Homo sapiens: one gene and its partners. The protein of the gene in region 1 interacts with the protein of each later gene in a biochemical or structural test. Each region holds a gene or a part of one and is shown on either strand. Other genes may lie near its edges.

What was found.
Region 2: the proteins of H2AZ1 (region 1) and ZNF24 form a complex in vitro, tested with the Homo sapiens proteins (one study listed by BioGRID).
Region 3: of the proteins of H2AZ1 (region 1) and USP16, one has a biochemical effect on the other in vitro, tested with the Homo sapiens proteins (one study listed by BioGRID).
Region 4: of the proteins of H2AZ1 (region 1) and RNF168, one has a biochemical effect on the other in vitro, tested with the Homo sapiens proteins (3 studies listed by BioGRID, with this or other methods).

Annotation. Positions count from the first base shown.
Region 1 is NC_000004.12:99,947,565-99,954,599, reverse strand, and holds H2AZ1 (histone H2A.Z), read left to right. Parts: upstream 1-4,324; 5' UTR 4,325-4,429; coding exon 4,430-4,432; intron 4,433-4,859; coding exon 4,860-4,937; intron 4,938-5,213; coding exon 5,214-5,327; intron 5,328-5,659; coding exon 5,660-5,789; intron 5,790-6,076; coding exon 6,077-6,138; 3' UTR 6,139-6,512; downstream 6,513-7,035. UniProt on the Homo sapiens protein: Variant histone H2A which replaces conventional H2A in a subset of nucleosomes. Nucleosomes wrap and compact DNA into chromatin, limiting DNA accessibility to the cellular machineries which require DNA as a template.
Region 2 is NC_000018.10:35,341,404-35,349,009, forward strand, and holds the start of ZNF24 (zinc finger protein 24), read right to left. Parts: upstream 3,018-7,606; 5' UTR 2,957-3,017; exon of another isoform or gene 2,651-2,956; intron 1-2,650. UniProt on the Homo sapiens protein: Transcription factor required for myelination of differentiated oligodendrocytes. Required for the conversion of oligodendrocytes from the premyelinating to the myelinating state.
Region 3 is NC_000021.9:29,020,665-29,027,674, forward strand, and holds the start of USP16 (ubiquitin carboxyl-terminal hydrolase 16), read left to right. Parts: upstream 1-4,003; 5' UTR 4,004-4,113; intron 4,114-4,163; exon of another isoform or gene 4,164-4,413; intron 4,414-5,044; exon of another isoform or gene 5,045-5,107; intron 5,108-7,010. UniProt on the Homo sapiens protein: Specifically deubiquitinates 'Lys-120' of histone H2A (H2AK119Ub), a specific tag for epigenetic transcriptional repression, thereby acting as a coactivator.
Region 4 is NC_000003.12:196,479,767-196,486,791, forward strand, and holds part of RNF168 (E3 ubiquitin-protein ligase RNF168), read right to left. Parts: intron 4,126-7,025; coding exon 4,004-4,125; intron 1-4,003. UniProt on the Homo sapiens protein: E3 ubiquitin-protein ligase required for accumulation of repair proteins to sites of DNA damage. Acts with UBE2N/UBC13 to amplify the RNF8-dependent histone ubiquitination.

The DNA of each region.
Region 1 (7,035 bases):
TCAGCCTCCCAAATTGTTGGGATTACAGGGATGAACTGCCACACCCCAAATGCAGCTTATTATTATTATTTTTTCTTGAGACCAAGTCTCACTCTGTCACTCAGGCTGGAGTGCAGTGGCATGATCTCTGCTCACTTCAGCCTCTGCCTCCCAAGTTCATGCGATTCTCCTGCCTCAGCCTCCTGAGAAGCTGGGATTACAGGTGCATGCCACCACACATGGCTAATTTCTGTAGTTTTATTAGAGACAGGGTTTCACCATGTTGGCCAGGTTGGTCTCAAACTCCTGGCCTCAAGTGATCCACCCGCCTCAGCCTCCCAAAGTGATGGGATTATAGGTGTGAGCCACGGCGCCTGGCCACACCCAGCTTACGTTGTGAATATTTTTGATCCTCAGTTGGTTGAATCCATAGATGTAGAACACAGGAATACAGAGAAGGAGGACCCACTGCCTAGGCAAATACACTATTATTTAGGAAAAAAATTTCAACACATGGACTCCCTTCCCCTGCCCTGAAAATCCTAAAGATCGATATTGATATCAATAATAGATAATAAAAGGATATGATAAGAATCTTGATTTTTTAATTTTAAAACAATAAATTTCCAAAAATTCTGAGGACTAATGTATGGAAAAAGTAAATTAGTGCTATATTAAAAGCATGATCTTTTGTTTTCCTGAAATGGCAGTGGATCTGGGTGGAGTAGATTCTGCTGATCTTTGTCATCTATTCCCTGCATTTGTGAATTGTTACCTGTGTGCAATCTGTGATCATGAGAAGTGCAAAGCTGGGCAATTTGGAATTTAAATCGATGGCTTTGGTTTTATCAACACTGAATTAAACACATAGGCTTCTCAACCTAAACAGAATTCAGGAAGGACTATGGCCTCGGTGCCAAAAATATTATTACATCACTCTACATATTCTTCGCACTTAACGAAACTCTTTCACAATTCTATCAAGTTGGTTTATCTGGTGTTACGAATCCCTATTTAATAAATGAAACTGTGCCTCAGTGTTTTACATACTTCAGGCCATATAGCAAGTAAGTGGCTACCCAAACTCAACCCTCATTCTTTTACTCTAGTTCAATATTTTGCATAATACCACACTGGAACTCAGTTATTCACAGCTGTGTGAATCCTTGAAGGCACATATTTTTCCTAGGTGCCCTAGGTAGAGAGAACCAAGATTCTAATGTAGATTTCCTGATGAAAAGAATTTTGCCGCCATTATCGATCTAGGCTAATATCCTTGGAAATAACTTGAGAACTTATTCATATTTTCTTAAAAATACGTTTTTAAGGCAAGATGTAGTTGAGAAATTTATAATTCCCAATTGTAAGACTCTCAAATTCTCTACATAAAAAGACAAGAACAATAGTAGTTAACATACATGCTAGTGTTTCAAAGGAGATAGCAACTAGTCATGGAAAATCTGGCTTAGTTAGGAAAAGGCTATTAAGGAAAGTGTCAATAATAGTGGGTTCGCCTACCTCATCTGAGGATTTTTTGTTGTTTTTTCGAGACAGGATCTCAGTTTATCACACAGGCTGGAATTCAGTGGCACAATCATGGCTCACTGCAACCATGGGCTCAAGTGGTCCTTCCACCTCAGCCTCCCGAGTAGATGGGACCACAGGCAGGGGCCACCATGCCTTGCTAATTTTTGTATTTTTAGTAGAGATGGGGTCTCGCTATGTTGCCCAGCCTGGTCTTTAACACCTGGGCTGAAGTGATCCTCTTGCCTTGGCATCTCATATTTTTTTATGGTGAGAGAACTAATTGGGTATGGCATTAAACAAAAGTAATTACATAGCTCTGGCTAAGTACATTATATACATGCATTACTATTAACACAGGAACTGGAAAGATAAACCAACAATATTAACATATTTGCATCATACCTTTTCTGGGGGGGGCAGGAAAAAGAGTAGGAAATCATCATACCACTCTGAGAAAAGTGCAGAAAGTAATACTGTCCTGTTCTCTGAAGGAAAATTATTGAGTTATTAAACCAATTTTGGATTTTAGTTTGGATGTTGGAAGACTTGGTTGTGTATACTTTGGGCAGGTTTCAAGCTTGCTGCTTCCAAATCGAAGAAAGAAAATAAACCAAATAGCAAAAAAGATTTAGAAATAAAAGATACTTTATTTCATCCCTCTCCAGCATCCAATGTAGAAAATAATAGCAGTTATTTACTGAGGGCTAACTACGTGCCAAACACATGCTACTATGTACATTGCATACCTTTTTCCTTAATCTTTCAACCATGTGAAAATAGATGATACTATCTTTTCACAGAATAGGAACTCGAAGCTCAGAAAGATTAGTAACTAAGATGACACAGTGAGGAGGAGGCAGAACAGAATCCATCTGTACTTGCTTCTGAGTTCATCCTCCTAACCACTATTCAGCGAGGCAACAGTAAATTCCCTTTATGGGGCTTCATAGCAAAGAGCTGGCAGAGTATTATCTAAACTAGAGATGGCATTAATGTTGGTTTTTTATATATCACAAAGCTTCCCTGGAGCCATCGTTAACTATCAGGTTTCATAGCTTAATATATCATTATTATATTATCAGTAGGAAAACGGCTGAAGTCTTGCTATCGACGACATCATAAGAGTTCCTTGGTTCCAAGAAATAATAAACCTCAATGTCAAAATTGTTGGGAAGCTCTTCTCTAGAATTTATCTCACAGAAATTGGGAGGTCCTCTAATTCGATAAAATCTTTCAAATTGAAACCCAATCTAAAGTACTTCAGAGTATATGTTTGTTGTTGTTGTTGTTGAGAAAGTCTCGCTCTGTTCCCCAGGCTGAGTGCAGTGGCGCAATCTTGACTCACCACAACCGCCGCCTCCCGGGTTCAAGCAATTCTCCTGCCTCAGCCTCCAGAGTAGCTGGGATTACAGGCGGGCGCCACCATGCCTGGCTAATTTTTGTATTTTTAGTAGAGATGGGGTGTCACCATGTTGGCCAGGCTGGTCTTGAACTCCTGACCTCGTAATCTGCCCGCTTCGGCCTCCCAAAGTGCTGGGATTACAGGTGTGAGCCACCATGCCCAGCATAGAGTATATGTTTCAAAATGTTCGTCACATTGAAACTATTCAATTATGTTAAAAAATGTAATACACTAAAACACTGCAAATGAGATTGAGACACTACTGTCCCCAAGCAGCTGGAGATGTACATAGGTGTTAATAACCTACTAGTTGGAAGGATAGTACTGTGTGTACAGTACCATTACTTTAACCTCATCATTTGCAACTGATTGCATTGCATGGACCCTCTAACTGCCTGAAAATCATGTCAGAGTTACTCCATCGACATTTGCCGAACATTTGTCATGTGGCAAAATACTTACTGTAGAAAAGTTGACACATAATAGCTCTGAGGTTTCACTAAATGAGCTTTACACACCAGGCTACAGGTACAACCCATTGATGTGTAGTCTCCAAAAAATATGGTTTATGATTTGATTAAAGAATACTGCCTCGCCAGAAGCTCCCTAAGTATAGACAAAAAGGGTTTCGTGACCAGTGAGGTGACTTGGCTTCACCGTTTGCTGTCACAGAACTATTCCGTGGAGGATTTCATAAGTAGTGAGGGAGAGGTGGAAGACCCGGCTGAAAATAAAGTGGGAGCAGCGGGTCGTGATCTGTTGGTGGCTGGGGACTCGCCTAGACGGAAGAAACACGGAATCTCTACTAAGGCTGTGGAAGGCGTCAGGGCAAACCTCAGACTCCTCTCACTGGACGCGTTCGCGCCACCTGTCAGACGGGAGGAGCCGCCAGGGATTGAGAGGGTAGGGAAGGGGTGTCCGGGGCCCCGGAAAGCGGCTGCGGGTCGCAGGTCTCCGCCCGAGAGGCGCTGGGAATGGGGCTGGGAGTGGTGGGGGCGGCGTGCTACATACCGAGGAGACTTCACGTGGTCTCTAGAGCCCTGCTAGGGGACCCGGGACGCTACCGCGCGCCCCTCCCCTGAGGTCTCAGCTCCTCCTCCCAGGCACGTGATCGCAGCCGGCTGGTAACTGCGCTCCTGCAGCGTAGCTCGCTCTGTTTCTTCCCTCCCGCCGCGGTGCCCTTCTTCTCCCCCGTTCCCATCCCTCCGCCTTCCCCCGCCTCTCCCCCCACGCCCCAATCGCGGCTTGAGATTAGAAGCGCCCGCCCCTCCACCCTTTTCTTCGCTTGCTCATTGGCTGAAGTCTCAAGGACGCGTCCCGAGGGCGGGTGGCAGCCATTGGTGGGATGAGCAATCCGAGTTCCCGGATGAGGGAACATTCTGCAGTATAAAGGGAGCAGGGAAGGCGGGAGACAGCGCAGTTTGAATCGCGGTGCGACGAAGGAGTAGGTGGTGGGATCTCACCGTGGGTCCGATTAGCCTTTTCTCTGCCTTGCTTGCTTGAGCTTCAGCGGAATTCGAAATGGTAAACTTCGCAGAGACGCTCGATGACTCCGCGGGTTTTTGCCGGCGAGAGAAAAACCCGTTACACAGAGGGATGGGGGTGAAGTGGCGACGGTTGGGAACGCGCGGAGACAGGATTTAGAAGAGTGGGGGGAGGTGTTTTGTCGGCTGCTAGCGGAGCAGCCTCGGATCTCGCGGCGGGCGGCGACGGTTGGGTGGCGCGCGCAGCGCCGCTGGGGGCCGGCGGGCGGAGGCGCGCGGCCGTGGCGAGCGCGCGGCGGGGGGCGAACGGGCGGGGTCGCCCCTGCGGCGCGCCGCGGGCCGGAGACCCCGGCAGGGTGCGGGGACGCGCTCGCGGCGGGACGCGCCGCGGTGGGGGATGGGCGCGCCGCCTTGGTAATTCTATATTCTCCGTTCCTCCTCCGCTCGCGGGCGTGTGCGCGCCGCAGGCTGGCGGTAAGGCTGGAAAGGACTCCGGAAAGGCCAAGACAAAGGCGGTTTCCCGCTCGCAGAGAGCCGGCTTGCAGGTCAGTAGTTGTTCGTGCAGTCTGGGAGTCATGATGTTTTTCTTTGCATTTCCTTTTTTGTTATTCATCGCTCTCGATGGGCGTTTTGTGTATGCGTGGGTGATGCGGTGTCGCGACTTGGGCTGCCCATACGATAAATATGGGGGGGAGGAATCACGTGTTTCGATGTCGGGACGCGTTGCTGCGCCCGTGCCCCTTGCTTTGGCGCGCATATAATTTCCCCATCTCTAGTTCTCATTTTTGTGCATTTATGTTTGTGTATGCTTAAAATTTAAGTTCCCAGTGGGCCGTATTCATCGACACCTAAAATCTAGGACGACCAGTCATGGACGTGTGGGCGCGACTGCCGCTGTGTACAGCGCAGCCATCCTGGAGTACCTCACCGCAGAGGTAAATGGGTGAACGCCTATAATCCGGAGAAGGTTTGGGGGGCGGGGAGGCGGCAAGAGGGAAGGAGGAAAGTGATGCAAGAAAACTCCCAGGCCCTGAACGCGGCGAGAGGCCTAAGAGAACGCTAGAGGGAGCTGGTGTTCAACAAGGATCCTACTGAGCTTGAGTTCTCTGCTCTTGGAATTAAAATTGCGTGCCCCCTGTATATCTTGCCAGTCAGATAGTGAGGAACGATTCCAGTTGGTAGATCTGCGTTTGTGAGGGTTTTATTCTGTTCTCTGAATCTTGGCCAAAGGAAAGTTGGAAGGCAACTGACAGATTCTGCCTTTTAGGTACTTGAACTGGCAGGAAATGCATCAAAAGACTTAAAGGTAAAGCGTATTACCCCTCGTCACTTGCAACTTGCTATTCGTGGAGATGAAGAATTGGATTCTCTCATCAAGGCTACAATTGCTGGTGGTGGTATGTTAACTTCTAACATTTTAAAAAATTTCTTCAGAGGAAGGAATTTTTTGCTGCTTTTAATTAGTTTTTCCAGGAGAGGAAATTTAAGTATATTTTCAATGATGGAAGTATGGTTGTATCATGAAATTTGATTTATATGTATAACTCAATGAATTTTTACTTCATACTTGAGCTGCATGTTTTTAAAGATACCTTTCAAGTTGAACAGTATACACTTTCTTGGTTTCAAATACTGTGATTTTTTAAAAAATCTTAAGTAGAATTAATTCCTGTCACTCTCCTAGGTGTCATTCCACACATCCACAAATCTCTGATTGGGAAGAAAGGACAACAGAAGACTGTCTAAAGGATGCCTGGATTCCTTGTTATCTCAGGACTCTAAATACTCTAACAGCTGTCCAGTGTTGGTGATTCCAGTGGACTGTATCTCTGTGAAAAACACAATTTTGCCTTTTTGTAATTCTATTTGAGCAAGTTGGAAGTTTAATTAGCTTTCCAACCAACCAAATTTCTGCATTCGAGTCTTAACCATATTTAAGTGTTACTGTGGCTTCAAAGAAGCTATTGATTCTGAAGTAGTGGGTTTTGATTGAGTTGACTGTTTTTAAAAAACTGTTTGGATTTTAATTGTGATGCAGAAGTTATAGTAACAAACATTTGGTTTTGTACAGACATTATTTCCACTCTGGTGGATAAGTTCAATAAAGGTCATATCCCAAACTAGTTGTGTATTAAATTTGCTTGGTTGTAATAGGAACTTGTTTTGAGTATCTCATCTAGCAGCAATAACTAAGCACATTTCTTTGTGACTGAACTGTCAAATCTGTAGATCAACAAAGTGAGATAGCCCAAGTATATTTTTTTAATGTTATATGAGCTACTAAAGTTTTAATTTAAAAAGTTGGCAGGAGCTGGAGTGGGATTGTCAGTTTCTTAGGCTAAGTGTGACCATTTCAGTTTGTACATTGGCTTCGCTTGCTGTGTGACAGCACTGCACTAGTATGCTGTTAGCATGGTGGACTTGGGGAGGGAGAGAATAGGTAGGAATGTCCTGTATATCCACAGAATGAACTCCGAATTTAAACTTTAAAGATAATAGTGCTACGTGCCAGGCCCTGCTTTGAAGTCTGAAGTTGTTAAGTACTCAGTAACATCATTGGGGATATACTATCTCCATTTTATCGAAGAGAAGCAGGGTTTCTTATTTGAAAGTACCGAGTTATGGTAGTTAGCAGAATTAACA
Region 2 (7,606 bases), on another chromosome or scaffold:
AACTTGATAACAATAATAAACGACTATGTTACTGGTTTATGTATTTACTATACTTTTTATACTATATTATTTTAGAGTGTGCTCCTTCTACTTACTAAATAAAAAAGTTAACTGCAAAATGGCCTCAGGCAGGTCCTTCAGGAGGTATTACAGAAGGCACTGTTATTATGGAGATGACAGCTCCATGTATGTTACTGCTCCTGAAAACCTTCCAGTGGGACAAGATATGGAGGTAGAAGGCAATGATACTGATAATCCAGACCCTGTGTAAGCCTAAGCTAATGTGTTTATCTTAGCTTTTAACAAAAACAGTTCCAAAAGAAAAAAAAAATTGGCCAGGTGCAATGGTTCACACCTGTAATCCCAGCACTATAGGAGGCTGAGGCAGGAGGATCACTAAAGACCAGGAGTTCAAGGCTCCACTGAGCTATGATCACACCACTGCATTCCAGCCTGGGCAACAGAGTATGACCCTGTCTCTAAAAAATGAATTTAAAAATAGCAAAAAGCTGTGCCGGGCACGGTGGCTCAGGCCTGTAATCCCAGCACTTTGGGAGGCTGAGGCAGGCAGATCACGAGGTCAAGAGATCAAGACCATCCTGGCCAACATGGTGAAACCCTGTCTCTACTAAAAATACAAAAATTAGCTGGGCGTGGTGGATTGCGCCTGTAGTCCCAGCTACTGGGGAGATTGAGGCAGGAGAATCTCTTGAACCCGCGAGGTGGAGGCTGCAGTGAGCCAAGATCGCGCCACTGCACTCTAGCCTGGCGACAGAGCGAGACTCTGTCTATAAAAAAAAAAAAGCAAAAAGCTTACAGAATAAGGATATAAATATATTTGTACAGCTGTACAATGTGTTTGTATTTTAAGTGAAGTGTTATCACAAAAGAGTAAAAAAGTTAAAAAAAAATGTAAAAGTTTGTAAGTGAAAAAGTTCCAGTAAGCTAAGGTTAATTATTGAAGAAAAATGTTTTCTTAATAAATTTAGTGTAGCCTAAGTGTTCAGTGTTTATATGGTCTATAGGAATGTACAATAATGTCCCAGGCCTCCAAATTCACCACTCACTCACTGACTTCTTAGAGCAACTTCCAATCCAGCGAGGTCCATTCATGGTAAGTGCCCTGTACAGGCATATCTTTTTTTTTTTTCAAACATTTTATATCATATTTTACTCTTATCTTTTCTATGTTTTGATACACAAATAGTTAGCATTGTGTTACAATTCTCTACAGTATTCAGTACAGCAACATGCCGTACCGGTTTGTAGCCTAGGCGCAATAGGCTATACCAGATAGCCTAAGTGTGTAGTAGGCTACGCCATTTAGGTTTGTGCAAGTACATTCTATGACGTTCACACAAGGATGAAATAGCCTAACATATTTCTCAGACCATAGCACTATCGTTGAGTTATGCATGACCTTATTTACTATATGGCCGCTTACAGAAAAAGTTTGCCAATCATGACCTACTAAGACGACAAACCCTATGTCAATAATCAAAAGAATCCAAGTAAGAACCAGACTACTTCAGTGCTTTCTAAATGTGCCTGACCCTGGAACGCATTATTTCCAATTCAGGATTGGTGTTTCCTGACACACACAAGTCAACTCAAAAGGAAGGTTCGCTTTATTATTATGTGCTTAAAAAAATTTTCTTTACCATTTAAAAAATATTTTTAAGGTGTTTAAGAACTCCTTGGACTTATATGTGAAAAAATGTTCACTTGCTGAGTAGCAGATCACATAATATTGAAAAGATCATATGTGAAAAACATCACATAATTTTGAAAAATTATCTTGCACATAATACGTAAATATTCAGTCTTCCACCACACCATACGTACATTTATATTTATAATGATAGGCATTAATCACAGAAACTTCTATTAAGAAAAGGCACTCGCATAAGCACCTTGACTTCCTGCAGTGGTCCAGTGTCTTGTCCTTACACTGGAGGACTCACAGTTTCCCCAGCTTCTACCTTCAGTGAAACTGTATACTGCTTCTGGACCTTTATTATTTGCACGATCATGCCCGTGCTGTTGTTTACGACACATACTAGCAATGAGCCATTCAGCCTATTTATTTATTCAGGGCCCAAAATCTGAACAATAACAACTTAAAAAAACTTATTGTAACCCAAGCAAGATGAAGACTAGAATCAGAAAAGGCCTTATCAGACAAGTAATACATACTGGTTTAATTAAATACCCTGGAGTGTGGTGGCCTTATACATAAGGTCTAGCCAACATTCATTCGTTCCTATTCCAAGACCCTGCTTATCAACGGTGCAAGTATTTCTACATAATTTTCTCTTCCTTTTATGCTGTAGAGCATACCGCTTGTGGGAAATGGAGGGAAGGCCCACGGTCCCGACAATGTTTGGGCAGGGTACCTCGTCCCAGGTGGATCGCCCACCTTACTGCTGCATAGACCTGCTGTGTATCCCGGCCCCGGCCCCGGCCCCGGCCCGACGTCCTCTAGCCCCTCTTCCCAGCACTCAGGACCGCGGATTTCAGATGACCAAAGGCCACCCTGTGACAACAGCGTCGGAACCACGGCACTTCCGCCTGCGGCCGGTGAGACTACAAATCCCAGAAGCCCCGCGCAAGTCTCGTCCCACTACCACCCCCTCCCATCACGACTCCCAGAACCCTCCGCGAGACGCCAGGGCCTCGAAATAGAACAAAACCGGCCGGTGGGGGAGGGGGAAGGTGAGGGTCTCGGAGGACACAGGGGGTTAGAGAGCTCTCTGCAAATGCCGAAGACCCAAGCAGGCCTGCCGCCTACCCCTCCCCGCCCCACAACTGCTAGGCGCGGAGACCGCGGCCTGTTCCCCGCGCCTCCCGGGAAGCTGAGGAAGGTCCCGGACAGGCTTCCCCGCCGGCTCCTGCTAAGAGGTCCGCAGACCCTAGCCCGGTGTCCCCCCTCCCTCTCATAACGTTCCCCGCACACCGGCGCAAACCTCCGGCTCAGGAACCGCAGCAGCTTCGCTGTCCACGGCAGACGCAGAAACGCCGTTCACAAGCCTTTTCCCAGAAGCCCCCGGCGCGGGCTGCTTCCGGTCTGCGGGCCTGAGGAGGCGGGGAGAGGTAAAGCCCACGTTGCCATGGAGAAGCGCCCCGGGCGGGGGAGGGGCGGCCCCACGACAATGACCGCATTGAGGCTGCGCTTGGCCTCGCGCCTCTCCTCGAACAGCCCAGCGTCCTCTGGACCGTTTAAAAGAAAACATAAAGAGGACTCTACCATTAAGATAGTCCTTACAATTTCGCAAGCCCTTTCACGTGCATTATCTTGTGGATCCTCTCAGTAATCCCCTGCAAGAAGGAATGAAAGTGAGTGTTTGTGAAAGCTTACTACATTGTGCCAGGCGCTCTCGTCGTGCTTTACATGTCATTTTTTTTTCCACAAATAAATGATGTAGGAACTTTCATTATCCCCATTTCACAGCTGAGATAGTTGAGGCACAAATACAGTAAATAACCTGACAAGAGCTCACAACTCATTTGTGGGTAGCAAGATTTGAAACCAAGACGTGATTCAAATCTTTGGCTCCCACTAGTTATGTCATGGAGCTTTATTCCGACCTATTTATCTGTCAGGAAAACTAGATAAGACAGGTTAAGAGTTTTGGCAGTGATGTCACGGTGAATTTGTAGAATGCATGGTCATCTTAAAGCTGGGCATTTTATACCATAAAACAACTGCTGACGCGATCATTTAAAATTACAAATCAGACCACTTCACTCCCCTATTTAAAGCCCTCCAATTTATGTCATAATAATTTATGACATAAAAACTCCTTATAATGGCCTGTAAGTCCCCTGTGGTCTGTTGCCTGCCCGCACCCCCAGACCCTGGCGCCCCCAGTCACCTCAGCTCCTCGGCTCATTGTGGCCCAAGATCCTCAGCCTCACCACCTGCCTTTCATGGCGCATGACCCTTCATGGCACTGTTATTAATGGAAGTGATCTCATTTATTTACTTGTTTTATTTTTTGTTTTGTTTTGTCTTTAAGTCCCTTAAGGGCAGGGACCTTGTCTGTCTTGCTCACCACAGTATCCCATCCTAGATCCTGGAAGCTGACTGCCTGGTAAATAGAGAACTCAATAAATATTTGTTGAATAAATAAATGAATTGTGGGATGGTTACATTGCTGCCTTTAGCTAGGTCACATGATTGGCATCAGACACCACACAAAGGAGCCCTGTTGTTTAAGGACTGGTCAAAAGTGTAGATCCAGCCTAACATAAGCATTTCAAGATCCTCAGGCTTTGACTTTTTGCCTCATTGGAGAAAATGCCCTCTGAAAAGTGCCGTCAGGCTCCGCTGGATTCGTGCATGAGAGAGCAAGTGAGCGAGCAGCTGATGGTATACCACTGCTTTTCATTCCGACCAGAGCTCTTCTCACAACCCCTGCTAACACTTCTCTCCATTGCAGGAAGCTTCAGAAGTACAGCCTTTTCACTCTGCTACTTGGATACGGCCCCTAAGCAACTTGGCTGCTCTTCCCAACCTTTCCCTCTTATCTGATTTGTAAAGGCTAGCTGAAGGCATTTTTGTTTTAAGAGTTTTTACATCTAATTAATGTTGGAAAACAAAAATAATAAATCTGAAACCTAACCTTGAGGAAGTTAAAAATGTTGCAAAATTTTACAAAACCCTTTTCCTGTGATTATATTGTTTGTTTTGTTTTTGAGACAGGGTCTTGCTCTGTCACCCAGGCTGTAGGGCAATGGTGCAGTCTTGGCTCACTGCAGCTTCAACCTCCCAGACTCAGTGATCCTCCCGCCTCAGCCTCCTAACTGGGCATTTTATACCATAAAACAGCTGTTGATGCAATCATTTAAAATTACAAATCAAACCACTTCATTCTCCTATTTAAAGGCCTCCATTTTATGCTGTAATAATTTATCTTGAAATGCTTATGGAAGGCTGGACTTACACTTTTGATAAGTCCTTAAACAACAGGTGTGCTCCACCATGCCCAGCTAATTTGTTTGTTTGTTTGTTTGTTTTTCAGAGATGAGTTCTTCCTATGTTTCCCAGGCTGCTCTCCAACTCCTGGGCACAAGTGACCCTCCTGCCTTGGCCTCCTAAATTGCTAGGATTGCAGGCATGAGCCACCGTGCCTGGCCTCCATTCTATTATTATTAATTATTTGTAAACTACTAAATGGAAACCACAGTAAGGTTTTCCTCACTAAGTTACTCCTTTGAGGGCAGGGGCTACTAACACCCGCTTTGAAACACCATCCTTCTGAGGTCCTCTGGGATTTTTTCCTGAATGGTGGCCCTTGTTGCCATCTTAAAGATCTAGTCAAGATAAAACATGTTCCTCTGGACAACCTGAATGGAGGGAGCAGCTTCATACCCGGGCCTGACAACCTTGCACATATCCACATAGGCCACATAGGCAATGCCTGAACCACAGCTGATCTGAGTCTTGGCAGAACACCTTGGGATCTTCCCAGAAGATGAGTGCATGAGAGGCTTGTAAGCAGCTAGTGCAAGGCCATTTCCCACTCAGCTCTCTGTCTTCCAAAGAGACTATCATGAGGCAGTTTCTATTGCTTCCTGGGTTCCAACGAGCCATTCTGCCTTACCCTCTTAGAGTACAGCTGCAGGTTATAACAAGGCTTAGCTGCAGCATGGCATTAACCCCTCAGCAACAAGGTGTCCACAGTGTATGCTGTAGTCATCCAGCCCCTTCTGTTTTGGTGTCATCATTTTGGTATCTGAGACAAAAGCTCATGGAGAGCTGGCACTTGCTTTTGCTTTCAATGTCTGTGCAAATAATAATATGTCTAAATTCAAAAAGGGTTCATTTCTTTACCAGCCAAATCTTTCAACCTTGCCTTGATACCAAACATCTGATTCATTAATTAATGGTAAAACGAACAAAATGACCAGACAGATACTACCTGGGTACCAGAGATAATAGAGATGAATAAAATGAAGTCATGATTCCGTCTTTGTTTTTCCCTTTAAAAGAGATGAGATCTCACTCTGTTGCCCAGGCTGGAGTGCAGTGGCATAATCACAGCTTGCTGCAGCCTGGAACTCCTGGTAGGGATCCTCCCGCCTCAGCCTTCTAAAACGCTAGGAGTACAGTTGTGAGCCACCATGTCCAGTTTGATTCCTTCTTTTAACATTACCATCTTGTTAAGGAAATAAACAACAACAACAGAAAAAAACAAGTATTCACAAGGCAGTGTAGAAGTGCTACAGTAGAGAAAAGCAGAAGGCCTGTAAGGGCTCCTAAATGAGATAGTGTGCTAAGAGGGAAGGGAGGCACCCTGAAATGGAGGAAGCCAGCCAGAAAAGTTTTCAGGCTGGGCATAGTGGCCTGCACCTTTGGTCCCAGGTACTCAGGAGACTGAGGTGGGAGGATTTCTTGAACCTGAGGGGTTGAGGATGCAGTGAGCTCTGATCGCATCACTGTACTTAAGCCTTGTGGACAGAGTGAGATCCTGATCAAAAAAAAAAAAAAAGTGTTCACACTGGAAGGAAAGCATAGACCTTCAGATTTGGTGTTATCAGATTCCATCCAAGACTGATTTTTTTTCCAGGCTTTGGAGCTCTCAGTCCCCTTCAGCTCAAAAGTATCTCCCTCTGGGCACTTTAAGTACATTGCTTAAAGATTCCATTTTAGCTAGTAAGTATACAGTATGAGGAGTCTTTTGATTGCAAGTGACTGAAAACCTAATAGGCAAGCATCGTTAGCTTCCCACACAAAGTGCTTTCCCTTGCTTCTAATACACTCCTGATTTTTTTGGATGGAGAGGGGGAACAGTGTGCCCAGCTGTAAGCAATAAAGTGTAATTGAGCTAAGCTATCCATGACCATTCTGCTTCCCTGTGCCAGACCCTCGCTTTGCCTTGCTGGCACCGAGGAATGAGTATGTGATTCATTTCTGGTCCATGAGATATAAGGGGAAATGGTTTGTATCTTTGAAGAAATCTGTCTAATTCATTTAAGTTGTCAGATTTATTGGCATAAAGTTGTTCACAATTATTTCCTTAATATCATTAATGTGAGTTCCTTAATATCTTTTTAATGTTTGTAGGGATGTCCCCTCTTTCATTCCTGACATTGCTAATTTCTGGTTTCTTTTTTCTTAATCAAGACTTCAAGTTTTGCTTGAGGCTTATCAATTTTATTAATTTTTCAAAGAATCAACTTTTGGCTTTGTTTATTTGTTTCATTATTTGTTCTCTATTTATGGAGTTCTTCTCTTAATAAAATTAACAGACAGCAAAATATGGCACTTTTGGGGGGGCAGATATTTCTGAGTTTTAGATTTGTGAAACGACCACCAAAATCATGACACAGAATAGTTCCATCATTCTATAAAACTCCATCAAGTTGTACTCATGCCTTCGCCACATCCCAATTCATGGCAACCACAGATTTGTCATCTGTCACAATAGTATTGACTTGTCCAGAATGTAATAAAAATGGAATCATAAAGTATGTTATCTTTTAAGGCTGGTTTCTTTGATTCATCATAATGCCTTTGAGATTCATCTGTGTTGTCACATGTATCAATAGTCGATTCCAGTCTATTACTGAGTAATATTCCACTTGTATCTATCATAGTTTG
Region 3 (7,010 bases), on another chromosome or scaffold:
CTCAACTTCCTACAATGAACAGGACATCCCCCGACAACAACAAATTTGCTGGTCCAAAATGTTGATAGTGTTGAGGTTGAAAAACACTGACCTGGAGAGTACAGAATTTTACTCTACCAGCTTTGTCACATACCTCATCAATCTATCTGTTTTCATACATTTAAAAGTAAACTGCAGACAGTACGCTTCTAAGTACCTCTAATGCACATCATTGGAGTTCAAATTAAGGATTTTTTAAGGTAAAAATGAAATGCATACCTTAAATACACATCAGTTTTTAAATGCACACGCCTATGGAACTCAAGCCATATTAACATATAGAACGTTACCATCACCCTAGAAAGTTCTTTCATGCCCTTTCTTAGTTCCCAACCAGTTCTCCCCAAAGGTAACCACTGTTCTGATTTTTTCCCCCACCATACTTATTTTTCTTGTTATAGAACGTCATATGGTTGGAGTCATGCAATAGATATTTTTGTGTAAGGGTTCTTTCACTCAGGGTAATATTTTCATCTGATATCATGTGTATCACTTTCTTTTGATTGCTCAGTAGTATTCCATCATATGAATATACCAGTTCCATTCTTGTTTTGATAGAAACCTGGGCTGTCTTCAGTTTTTTGGCTATTATAAATAAAGCTGCTGTGAACGTTCTTATATAGCATTTTATTGCTCATGACTTTCTTTTCAATAAATATTTATCGAGCACTTACTATATTCCAGGCATTTCCAGGTACTAATTATAGCCATGAACAAGACAAAGATGTCGCATCTCTCAAAGAGCTTATATTTGCACATTTCTGTGTATGTATGAAGAGGGCTAAACATAAAGGTAAAAATAAAAGAAAATTATGGGCCGGGCACAGTGGCTCATGCCTGTAATCCCAGCACTTTGGGAGGCCAAGGCGGGCAGATTACCTGAGGTTGGGAATTCAAAACCAGCCTGACCAACATGAAGAAACCCCGTCTCTACTAAAAATACAAAAATTAGCTGGACATGGTGGTGCATGCCTGTAATCCTAGCTACTGGGGAGGCTGAGGCAGGAGAATTGCTTGAACCTGGGAGGCGGAGGTTGTGGTGAGCCGAGATCACGCCATTGCACTCCAGTCTGGGCAACAAGAGCAAAACTGCGTCTCAAAAAAAAGAAAAAAAAAAAAAATTATGGCTGGGTATGATAGCTCATGCCTATAATCCCAGCACTTTGGGAGACCAAGGAGGATCACTTGAGCCCAGGGTTTGAGACCAGCTTGGGCAACAGAGACCCCTAACTCTACAAAAAACACAAAAATTAGCCAGGTGTGGGGGCGTGTGCCTGTAGGCCTGTAGTCCCAGCTACTCAGGAGGCTGAGGTAGGAGAATTGCCTGAGCCTGGGAAGTTGAGGCTGCAGTGAGCTGTAACTGCACCACTGCACTCCAGCCTGGGCAACAGAGTGAGACTCTGTCTCAAAAAAAAAAAAAAAAGAAAGAAAATTACCAGATAGTGGATAAACTGCTGGGCAGAGAAGTAAAGTAAGGTGATGTGAGTGATCAGATGACTGTGTTACTTAGATTGCCCTGTAACTGGAAGGAAGTGACTTTTAAGGCATGTATAGAAGCTGGGTGTGGTGACTCACACCTGGAATCCTAGTGCTTTGGGAGGCTGAGGCTGGAGTATCGCTTGAGGTCAGGAGTTTGAGACCAGCCTGGGCAGCAGGCTTTTGTAGAGACACGGTGACTTCAAAAAAAAAAAAAAAAAGTTAGCTGATGAGGTGGCACACACTTGCAGTACCAGCTACGCGAGGCTGAGGCATGAGGATCACTTGAGCACAGGAATTCAAGGTTACAGTGAACTATGACTGCACTTCAGCCTGGGCTACAAAGCCAGACCCTGTCTCTAAAATAAATAAATTAAAAATAAGGTGTGAACAGAATGACAATAAGATACCAACCCCGGAAGATCAGGGGGAAGAGGCTTTCTGACAGGAAGCACGTGGTACAATGACCCTAAGGCTCTGTTTTAAAATGCGTGGGGGCAAAAAGCCTGCATTTCTGGAGCTTGGAGAAGAAAGCTTTAAAAAATTATCTCATCCCACTCCTGTTCTTTTTTGCATGAGAGCTGGAGCCTATGCCCTACCACACATCCGTGGATATGCCCAGGATTTGACTTGGGCCTTCGAACTTTGCACAGTAGCTGCTACTAACTTTTTGAGATAATACATTCGTGGGGGCTCAGTCCTGCCTCATCTAAATCACCAGAGACCAAACAAGGACCAGCCCAATATCTCTTGGACTGTAATGTCATAATGTTGTCAGAATACAGAGAAAGATGAAACTAAGCCGGGTCCGGTGGCTTATGCCTGTAATCCAGCATTTTGGGAGGCCGAGGCAGGTGGATCACTTGAGGCCAGGAGTTCAAGACCAGCCTGGCCAATATGCTGAAACCCTGCCTCTACCAAAAAAATACAAAAGTTAGCTGTGTGGTGGGGTGGCACGTGCCTATAATCCCAGCCACTGGGGAGGGTGAGGTGGGAGAATCGGGAGGTGGAGGTTGCAGTGAGCTGAGGTCGTGCCACTGCACTCCAGCCTGGGTAACAGAGTGCAACCCGGTCTCAATAAATAAATAAATAAGTAAATAAAACAAAAATTATCTCAGCAGTAAAAAGCAAGAGAGCTAGTTTTCCCCCAAATTTAACCAAATGTTACTCTGGTGGTTAGTATGCCACCATCTTAAACTCCTTTTATCTGATTAGTAAGGATGGACATTTATTTTATGACCAATTGTTCTTTTATGGTGAATTACCTGTTTACATATCTATTTTTCTATAGCTATCTGCAACTCCCCCGACCCCCACGGTAGCGATTACTATCTTCTCTACTAAACTAAGACTCCAGGGCAGAGAGGCCTATGTTTAATTCATTTGAGGAAAGGCTTGGCACAAAGTGTGCACTTACATATTTTCTTTTTTTCTTTTTGAGAGGGAGTTTTGCTCTTGTTGCCCAGGCTGGAGTGCAATGGAGTGATCTTGGCTCATTGCAACCTCTGCCTCCAGACTTCAAGCGATTCTCCCCCTTAGCCTCCCGAATAGCTGGGATTACAGGCGCCCGCCACCACGACCGACTAATTTTTTGTATTTTTAGTAGAGACGGGATTTCACCACGTTGGCCAGGCTGGTCTCGAACTCCTGACCTCACGTGATCCACCCGCCTCGGCCTCCCAGTGTTGGGATTACAGGGGTGAGCCACCGCGCCAGGGCTCGCACTTACAAATTTTCAAAGAATGGACAGTAAATATTTGAAAATCCCCTCCTCCCCCGCAATTTATCTGACACCGTCTTTCGGTTTTGCTTTAAAAATTCACTCTCGCGGCCGGGCGCGGTGGCTCACGCCTGTAATCCCAGCACGTTGGGAGGCCGAGGCGGGCGCATCACAAGGTCAGGAGTTGGAGACCAGCCTGGCCAATTGGTGAAACCCCGTCTCTACTAAAAATACAAAAATTTTAGCTGGGCGTGGTGCCGTGCGCCTGTAGTCCCAGCTACTCGGGAGGCTGAGGCAGAAGAATGCACTCCAGCCTGGGCGACAGAGGGATATTCCGTCTCAAACAAACAAAAAATCACTCGCTGCGTTTTTTATTCTGACATGGTGCAGGAAGGTAAATTCAAGACAACTTAGGTACTCAGTTTTAGAAGTCGACAGGACAGAATTACGGAAACAAATTTAAGCGTTCCCCCTTTTAGCTCCAAATATAATGTGTTCCAGAAAGGTAACCATCTAGGAAACTCCAAGGCTCAGACCACCACCGGATGCCCACACTTCAGGAGCATTTATATAACTTCGTGGTTATGTCAGAGACGAGAAAACCCATTGACAACCAAACCCCTAAACCCGAACATCCGGCGCAAGCCGCACGCAGGCGCAGATTTACTAGCGTCAGAGCCGATGGTCCCGGGAGGTGGGGGTGGGGTGGTGGTGGCCTAGCCACTTCCCATAATGCCGCGTTCCGGAAGTTATTGCTTTCCAGGGGTCACTCTGGCTTCGACTCCGTCGCTCTCAATTCGTCACCAGGAGGAAGACGGAGCTGGCTGCCCAGCCCAAAGGCCCATGAGGGGATGCAGTTATGGGCTCTGTCGCCGTGGGTGAGTTCTGGTCCCACTGCCTGGCAGTCGTCGCTCGCCTGGCTTTCTGCGCTGGGAGAGCTCCTGTTTTCCGCCCCAACTTCGTTCTCTTCTTGAAGGCCGCTCTCCTTAAGCACGTAACCCGGCTACTTTCCGGTACTGCGATCTCATTGGCTGCATGTTCTGTCAGTTCCAGAAGCTGGCCAATGAGATGCCGCTGCTGGCGGCCTTCTCGACCCCGTGGACCCAGAGGTTCCCCCGTGGGATCGGAGCAGTTAGAAGGGGAGGAGAGGGAAGGTGTGGCAGGCGCCGAGCAAATGGGTGGGTGGCGCGTGGCAGGGACTTCCCTATGGGTTGGAGCTGGATTTGCAGCCGTGTTCATACGGCTGGTAGGAAAAGCAGGATCTGTCACTTATCCAATTGACTATATCTAGGAGGGGATTGATATACGCAAAACTTGAAAGCCACGTTAACACCTGCTGACAAAGTTTTCCACACGCTTACATTTTTAATGGAACCGAGTAGGCAGGGGAAGACTGGGAGGGCAGAGAGTGAAGAGACTTGGAATAATATGAGAACCGGCAAGACTATCTTTGATTTAGATTTTGTATGGAGTCCTGCGAAGAGTCATTTCACTAAGACGTTAATGCTCATCCGATGACACTACTTGAAAAGTGTATTAAGTTTATTGATGTTTTATAGCTGATGGAAGTCACAATATGCTCTCCTCATGACTCATTAGTTGCCTTTATAGTTGTCAGAACTTTACTGAGGCTCTTTCCGCAGCACTGGAGTGACCCCTCTGTCCTCTGCCTGCAGTAATTAACAATTCGTCTTTCAAGTTTTCCTATGGAGTCTAAGCTGCTGCAATCCTCAAACCAGATTTACTAGTGCTGTCTTCACTACTGCAGACTTCTGACTTCTCATTTTTCACCCTTTTCTTTTTCACCAGAACTTGTTTGCTTCATTCTTATGTACCTACCTTTGCACCTTGTAATCATCCTTTATGCCTCAGGTACTATTCTATTTTTCTATTTCAATGCAAGAAGTATTTCTTCAGGACCTGCTATGTACTAACATTATGCTAGATATTATAGGCAGTTCCAAAACTGTGCTTGAAACCATTTATTTTTCTAAGAACTTTAGATTCTGCTTACAGAAATAACATAAACCCAGATTAAAGATTTAAGAAATTCACTAGAATATGGGATAAGGGGACAAGATGACTAGAGCATACCATAAATACTGGGGAAGTTCAGTGGAGAGGTTTATTTAGAGTAGAATGATTGTCTAAGGCTTCCTTGAAATGGAGAGCTTCCAAGATTGGTAAGATTTAGATAGAATATTACAGCTAGAAATCAAAGACATCAAGGCGGGGAGGGTACAAAGTGTTTTGGAGTGGAGTACAAGAGAAGGACTTGGCCAGGTGCTGTGGCTCACGCCTGTAATCCCAGCACTTTGGGAGGCCGAGGCAGGTGGATCACGAGGTCAGGAGTTCAGACCAGCATGGCCAAGATGGTGAAACCCCGTCTCTACTAAAAATACAAAAATTAGCCGGGTGTGGTGGTGGGCGTCTGTAATCCCAGCTATTCGGGAGGCTGAGGCAGGAGAAGCACTTGAACCCGGGCGGCAGAGGTTGCAGTGAGCCGAGATCGGGCCACTGCACTCCGGCCTGGGCGACAGAGCAAGACTCCGTCTCAAAAAAAAAAAAAAAAAAAGAGACAGACTTGATTGGCAGGTAAAAAGTGGTGGTCTTGAAACCCAAACATCTGCATTTTACCTTTTTTTTTTTTTTTTTTTTTTTTGGTAGAGATAGAGTGTCGCTTTGTTGCCCAGGCTAGTCTTGAACTTCTGGCCTCAAGCCGTCCTCCCACCTCGATCTCCCAAAGTGTTGGGATTACAGGCGTGAGCCACCGCACCCAGACAACATCTGCCTTTTAGCTCATCGTTTGTGTGATCTTTCACCATTTTTTTTTCCTGACTTTTCTCCTTGAGTGAAATGCCTCTATTTAAAGTGTTGTTATGAAAATCCGATGTGATAATGTTTGTGAAAGGGCTTTGAAGATCAAAAGCACTATATAGTTATAACTTTAGTGGTTTTTTTTGTTGTTGTTGAGGTGTAATAGAAAGTCAGGATTAGCCGAGCAATGGGGCCGAATTTATAAAGGCCTATGAGTGCAAAGTTTAGGGAGTGTGGTCCAGGAAACTGTTAAATGCTTCCGATCAAGAGAGTGATATGATAAAAATGGCATAACTGGGAGATGAATCTAGTACTGAACTCCCACATCGATTAGAGTGAGTTGGATTGGAGGCAAGAACTTGGGTGCTATTTTATGTATTTATTTCTAAAATCTATAATTCTATATAATTAGGTAGACCTGTATGTACTTTTAGCACTTTTCATGTTTTCTAAGTTTGAATTGTTGACTAAAAAAGTGAAGATTTGATGTGCAGCTAGATTTGTCAAATAGCCTTCCAAAGTGGTTTTGGCAATAATATAATAATGTAAATAGTTGAGAATGCAGTTGTAATCAATTTTCATTTAGCTGATACGCATAGGAAATCCTGGTGTGGAAAATGTACAACAGTGTATCACTTTTTGTATTTGGCTTTGAAGCCATTTTGGAAATTTTCTAACTCCCTTCAGGAGGTTGTTAGAATTATTTTTAATTTTTATTAGAGAAATTATCAGTTTAATTTGCATAGACTGCAGAGCTAAGAAAGGTAGCTTAGAAGGGAAGCAAATCAGTTTTCTGATTAAAGTGCTGCCATTATTTCACATGTATGTAGTGAGGAGTCACCTTCCTAAGAGTATCAAGTTCTGAGACTGTTCAAGATCTGTGTAAGATGACCAAGGTTCTCTCCTGACCTTTACATATATTGAAAACCTCTTAAGCTTGCTAAGAATCACTTTCCTA
Region 4 (7,025 bases), on another chromosome or scaffold:
TTTTTAGTAGAAACGGGGTTTCACCATGTTGGCCAGGCTGGTTTTGAACTCCTGACCTCAAGTGATCTGCCTGCCTCACCCTCCCAAAGTGCTAGGATTACACGCATAAGCTACTGCGCCCGGCTTGTGATTTGCTTTTTTCACTAATGTCTTAAGATCTTTCCAAGTCTGCCTCATGAAAACAAAGTTTATGAGAGAACAGTCATACAATACATGTAAGAATCACAGTACAGCACGGTCACGGGGAGGGGGACACTGACTGGAAAGGGAAAGGGCACAAGCAAACCTTTGTAAATATTCCGTCTTCATCTGGTGGGTGGTTTATACACACACAAAAATTCACCAGAAAGTATACTTAGGATTGGTGCACCGTCTTTTTAAATTTTTTACTTTTTCTTTTTTACCCTGTCTTATGGTGCCGAAGACTGGTGCACTTTAAAATATATGTTTGCTGCTCTGTGGTCCATTAAAAACAAAACAAAAAAATGTGTTATTCTTCTAAAAAGTTTAAAAATCTGTATTACCATGAAAGCCCATATGCTTATTACTTGGTTGAAGGGAAAAGAAATCATTGGTTTGAAAGTCTCCTATGGGGCCTCGTCATCTCCCACCTCATACTATCCTGAGTTTCTTATATCTTACTTTTTAAAACAGATTTGCCACACTTTTGCATCTCTAAACACTTTATTGATTAGTATTGTGTGATTCTGAGCGAGACTCCGTCTCAAAAGAAAAATTTGAAAAGTTGGAATTCTGATTCGAATTGCACTGACTCTATAGATCAGTCTGAGGAGATCTGACCATTTTGTAGTATTAGGCATCTTCTAACCCATGAATATTGTATATTTAATATAATACAATTTTCTCCACGGGTCGTACAGATTTTTATTTTTCTGAGACATGGTCTTGTCTGTTGCCCAGGCTGGAGTGCAGTGGTAAAATCACAGCTCACTGCAGCCGTAACCTCCCAGGCTCAAGTGATCCTCCTGCCTCAGCCACCTGAGCAGCTGGGACTACAGGTGTGCATCATCATGCCTGGTTAATTTTTTAATTTTTTTTTAAGAGATAGGGTCTCCCTGTGCAGCTCGGGCTCGTCTTGAACTCCTGGGCTCAAGCAATCCTCTCGCCTCAGTCTCCCGAAGTGCTGGGATTATAGGCATGAGCCACCATGCTTGCCTCAGATTTTAACACATTTATTTTTAAGTACTTTTATTTTCTGATACTACTATCGACAGAGTATTTTTAAAGTTACATTTTACAATTGACTTTTTGTACAGATTTTATATCTGGCAACCTTGCTAAACTCTTCATTCTAAAAATGTACCTCTGACTTTTTGGGTTTTCTACATAGATAATTATACCGCCTCTGAAGAATGATAGCTGCTTTTTCCTTCCTTTCCAGGCTGATATGTTTTATCTCCTTTTATTGTGTTACTGTGCAGACTAAACTCTCCAGCATGAGTCTGAATGCAGGTGGAGAGTAGCAGGCCACCCTTGCGTATTCCTGACCTTACAAGGGGAATGGCGGGGCGTGGCGGCTCACTCCTGTAATCCAGGCACCTTGGGAGGCCCAGGCGGGAGGATCACTTGTACCCAGGAGTTTGAGGTTGCAGTGGGCCATGATCGCACCACTGCGCTCTAGCCTGGGTGACAGGGCAAGAAAGACTGTCTGGAAAAAAAAAAAAAGGAAATAATTTCGATGTTCCACTATGAAGTATGATATGTGATGTAAGATTTTGGTAGATATCCTTCAACAGGTTAAGAAAGTTTCTTTCTGTTACCACTTCATTAAGAATTATCATCTCGTGTATTTCATATTTATACAGCTAATTGAATAACTTACAGTGATTCATTTTCTACCATTAAACCAGCAATGTATTCCTGGAATTGTCTTTTTAAATACGTTTTCAGCTGCGTTTTTTTTTTTTTTTTTTTTTTTTTTTGAGATATGATCATAGCTCACTGCAGCTTCGACCTCTTGGGCTCAAGCAATTCTCCCACCTCAGCCTCCCAAGTGGCTGGGGTTACAGGCATGTGCCACTGCATTTGGCTAATTTTTTTATTTTGTGTAGAGACAGGGTCTTACTATGTTGCCCAGGCTGGTCTTGAACTCCTCCTGGCCTCAAGCAATCCTACCACCTCAGACCTCAGCCTCCCAAAGTGCTGGGATTATAGGCATGAGCCACTGTCCCTGGCTTTTTTTTTTTTTTTTTTTTAGAGACAGGATCTTGCTATGCTGTCCAAGCTGGTCCCAAACTCAAACTCCCTGGGCTTAAGCAATCCTCCTGCCTCAGCCTCCCATGTAGCTGGGATTACAGGTACGTGCCACAACACCTGGCTGCCCTTTCTTCTTTTCTGATACGGCACGTAAAGCCTTCTAAATACCACTTTAGCCACATACCAGTTTTCATGCATATTTTCAGTTCTGTATTTCCAACAAAATTTACTCTTTAATCAACAAGTTGTTTAGAAATTTTTCTTAATTTTAAAACTATATAATCCTGTTATTCATTTTTAAACTTTTGAATTGAGGTGTAATTCACATAAAATGGAATGCCACATTTTGTTTACCCATTCATTTGTTAATGGACATTTGGGTTGTTTCTACCTTTCGGTTATTTGAATAATGTTGACACAAATATTCATGTACAAGTATTTGTTTGAATACCTGCTTTCAATTCTTTTGGGTACATACCTAGGAGTGGAATTGCTGGGTCATATGCTAATTCCGTTTAACTTTTCAAGGAATCACCAACTGTTTTCTGCAGCCACGATACCACTTTACATTCCTACCAAGCAATGCGCAAGGATTCCAATTTCTCCACATCTTTGTCAACACTTATTATTTTCCCTTTTTGTGGATTATAGCCATCCTAATGGGTATGAAATGCTATATCACTGTGGTTTTGATATGCATTTCCCTAATAACTAATGATGTTAAACATATTTTCGTGTACTTATTGGCCACTTGTACATCATGGGAAAAATGTCTACTCAAGTCCCTTTGTCCAGTTTTTAATTATTTGTCTTCTGTTGTTGAGTTATAAGAGTTTTCATATATTCTAGAAAACAGACTTTATCTGTTTTTAATATTGTTACAACTTTAATCCATCAGTTTCTCAATTTTTGCTTTTAAATCCTTAGTTTTTCTTGTATCTCTGGTAATTTTTTATTTTTATGTATTTCAAAGTATATATTTAGATATATAAAGATTCATGAGTTATAGCCTTAAACAGCATATTGTATCAATATGAAATACTTCTGCATTTTAGCGGTTTTCTCATTTTTACTTTGCACATTATGAGTACTGGCGACACTGATATTGTCACATCTTTTTTTTTTTTTAATAGTACCTCCCTCATTTAACATTCTCTTCTCCTAAGCTTCCTCCCACCTCAAATACAAAATTTCAACAAATCTTGGAAGGAGATGAGTTACCTGCACATATTTCCTCAGTTGAACCAGAAGTCCTTATGTATTTTTCAAGTCTAGACTGTGGTTTTTAAACTTTTCCAACTGTGAGTTACCATGGGAAAGCTGATGTTTGCGTAAAGCCACCAACTCCACCTGGCACCTGACCCTGGAGGGGTGTTGTGGTGAAACTCAATCACGCCACCTTTGTCTACCTGACTCATGCATTTTGTGTAATAGAGAAGAAATGACAAATTGTAAACTCTTTCAGTGAAGATAAGCCTATCTGGGACCCATTTTTTTCATCTGAATTTAAACCAAGAGAAAGAGGAATCCAATGGTTCACTTTGAGAAAACTGGAAATCCTGAGGCAGTAAGATAAAAGTATGAATCTGCCACAGTAAGTGGCTGAGTGAGAAGCCAAGAGGAAGCTGTGTGAGTAGCTCTCTCCTTTTCAATTTACCTCAACCTCAGACTATTTTCATACAAAGTTCACGGACCAAACTTTGAGAATCAGTAGTAGTCTATATGAACAGAAAACACTGGCATACAGTAGGAGGTCAACAAATAATTCATAGTCATGTTCACTTACTTCTGAATATCTCCAGTGTTTCTTTGTTTGTTCTTACTTTTCTTTTCAGACTTGGGTGTAACTGGATCAGATTTTCTGGAATTCAAGGGAGAAGCCGAGATACTTCCCTCACAGAAATTGTTCTTCAACAATAGAAAAAGCATAACAGACATTATGAGAGAGAACTTTATGATAAAATAAGCTATTAATTTGACTAATTCAGAAATCCATAGCATTTTTCAGAAATTATAGTTATATTTAAATTCTGTACATCTCTTGAAGAATATTGACCATGCAAAAATCAGAATAAACTATGTTCATCCAAGTTGGTCTAAATTAATTACATTTTTACTGTACATCAAGCACAAAATAAGGCATAATACTAACCTCATTAGCTGATAATTCCTGTTGATCTTTCTTTCCTTTTTTTTTTTTTTTTTGAGACGCAGTCTCGCTCTGTTGCCCAGGCTGGAGTGCAGTGGCGCGATCTCGGCTCACTGCAAGCTCCACCCCCGCAGGTTCATGCCATTCTCCTGCCTCAGCCTCCTGAGTAGCTGGGACTACCGGCGCCCTCCACCATGCCCGGCTAATTTTTTGTATTTTTTTTAGTAGAGATGGGGTTTCACTGTGTTAGCCAGGATGGTCTCGATTTCCTGACCTCATGATCTGCCTGCCTCGGCCTCCCAAAGTGCTGGGATTACAGGCATGAGGCACCGCGCCCGGCCTTTTTTTTTTTTTTTTTTTTTTTTTTAAGACAGGGTCTCACTCTGTCGCCGAGGCTGGAGTGCAGTGTAGCAATCATGGCTCCTTGCAACCTTGACCTCCCAGGTTCAAGTGATCCTCCCACCTTCACCTCCCAAGTAGCTAGGACTACAGGCATGAGCCACCAGGCTTGGTTAGGTGGGTTGTTTTTGTTTTATTTTGAGACAGAGTCTTGCTCTGTCATCCAGGCTGGACTGCAGTGGAGTGATCATAGCTCACTGTAGCCTCAACCTCCTGGGCTCAGGCAATCCTCCCATCTTAGCTTCTCGAGTAGCTAGGACACAGGCATGTGCCACCATGCCCAGCTACTTTTTTTTAAATGCTTTGTAAAGATGAGGTCTCACTATGTTGCCCAGGCTGGTCTCCAACTATTGGAATCAAGTGATTCCCCCACCACAGCCTTCCAAAGTGTTCGGATTATAGGTCTGTGCCACTGTGCCCAGCCTGTTGATTTTTCTAATAAATACTTTTATATAATTACTTTTATCTATATGGACATATTCAGAGAGCTGTGGATATACCCAAAAGAATAGTTTTATGTAATAATATTTTAGTTCTGGACTTTAAGGGCGTATTAATAAAAATCACAAATATTTACTTGCTGTACCAGTCTCGTAAGTTTCTTACTACCCTAATGGAAAAGTTCATATATGGTGATGGTGAATATTTGGCCTTAAACCACCAAACTTTCATAAATAAATAGAAAATTATTCTAGGTTGGGCATGGTGGTTCATGCCTGTAATCCCAGCACTTTGGGAGGCTGAGGTGGGTGGATCACATGAGGCCAGGAGTTCAAGACCAGCCTGGCCAACATGGTGAAACCCCATCGGCACTAAAAATACAAAAATTAACAGGATGTGGTGGCGGCACCTGTAATCCCAGATACTCTGGAGGCTGAGGCAGGAGCATCGCTTGAACCGGGAGTTGAGGTTGCACTACTGCACTCCAGCCTGGGTGACAGAGTGAGACTCTTGTCTCAAAAAAAAAAAAAGTTAAAAAAATTATTCTACAGTATCAATAAATCTACTCTTATAATACCATGGGAAAACTAGATATACTTCTTCCCTATTCCATTTATTATTCCATTGGTCAATGACTTTTATTTAGTTTCCTGATTGTGTATTTCTAAAGCGATTCTACTTAAAAAAGACACATAAAAAGGGGCATATAACCCAAAATTTGGGTACATTATTATTAATGGTAGGCCTCTCAAAAAAGAAAAAAATTCCCAATTCTGCGTATACTCATTTTGCTAAGTGTATATACATATATATTTTTTTATTCTATTGAACTTCCCATGATTCAATGGTAAGTGTATGTTAAGATATTCGTTGTTTGAAAGCTGAAGAATTGTTTTCACAGGCTCTCAAACCTGAATGTTTCACACTTCCCTACATGCCTCTGAAGATTGTATTCCCTAGGTCCCATCCCTAGAGACTCTGACTTAATAGATTTGGAGTAAATATGAGAGTTTGTATTTCAACAGCATTCCCAGGTTACTCTGCCAGGCTCGTTCAAACCACTGGGCCCCACAGTACCCTCTGATCTTAAAGTATGTGTTTTATCACACACCATTTAATTCATTTTCTTACAGGCAGCAATTTAACTACAGGAAGCAGAACATCCAAGTTTAATACATTATCTAAAAATTTAATGTGCCTTACTTTCAAAATGTGATTTACATCCATAAAATGGAATATTATTCCACTCTTTAAAAGAATTAGATTGACTACATGTAGTAATATGAAAAATCTCTACGATGTTATCAAGTGGAAAAAATGTAAGCAGCAAAACAGTGTGATTGCTTTATATAATCCTTTTTAGGTCAATAAAGAAAAAAAGCTTTTTTTTTTGAGATGGTCTTCCAGGTTGAAGTGCAGTGGCGAGATCAGCTCACTGTAACCTCAAACTCCTGGGCTCAAGGGATCCTCCTGCCTCAGCCCCTCCCAGCAGGTGGAGCTCCAGGCACGCACCATCACACTCGGCTCATTATTAATTTTTCTGAAGAAACAGGGTCTCACTTTGTTGCCCAGGCTGGTCTCAAACTCCTGGGCTCAAGCGATCCTCTCGCCTCAGCTTCCCAATGTACTGGGATTACAGGCCCGAGCCATCGCACCCTGGCAAGAAAAAAGTTGTAAGAAACTGTTAATAGTGGTTACCTTTGGGGATAGAGACTGATATAAATGGAAAAGGAACGGGAGTGGAGAGGTGGAAGAAGGAAAAAGGAAGCTTTCATTCTTCACTGAATAGCTTTCCTACATATAAAAAAGTTGTTAAACA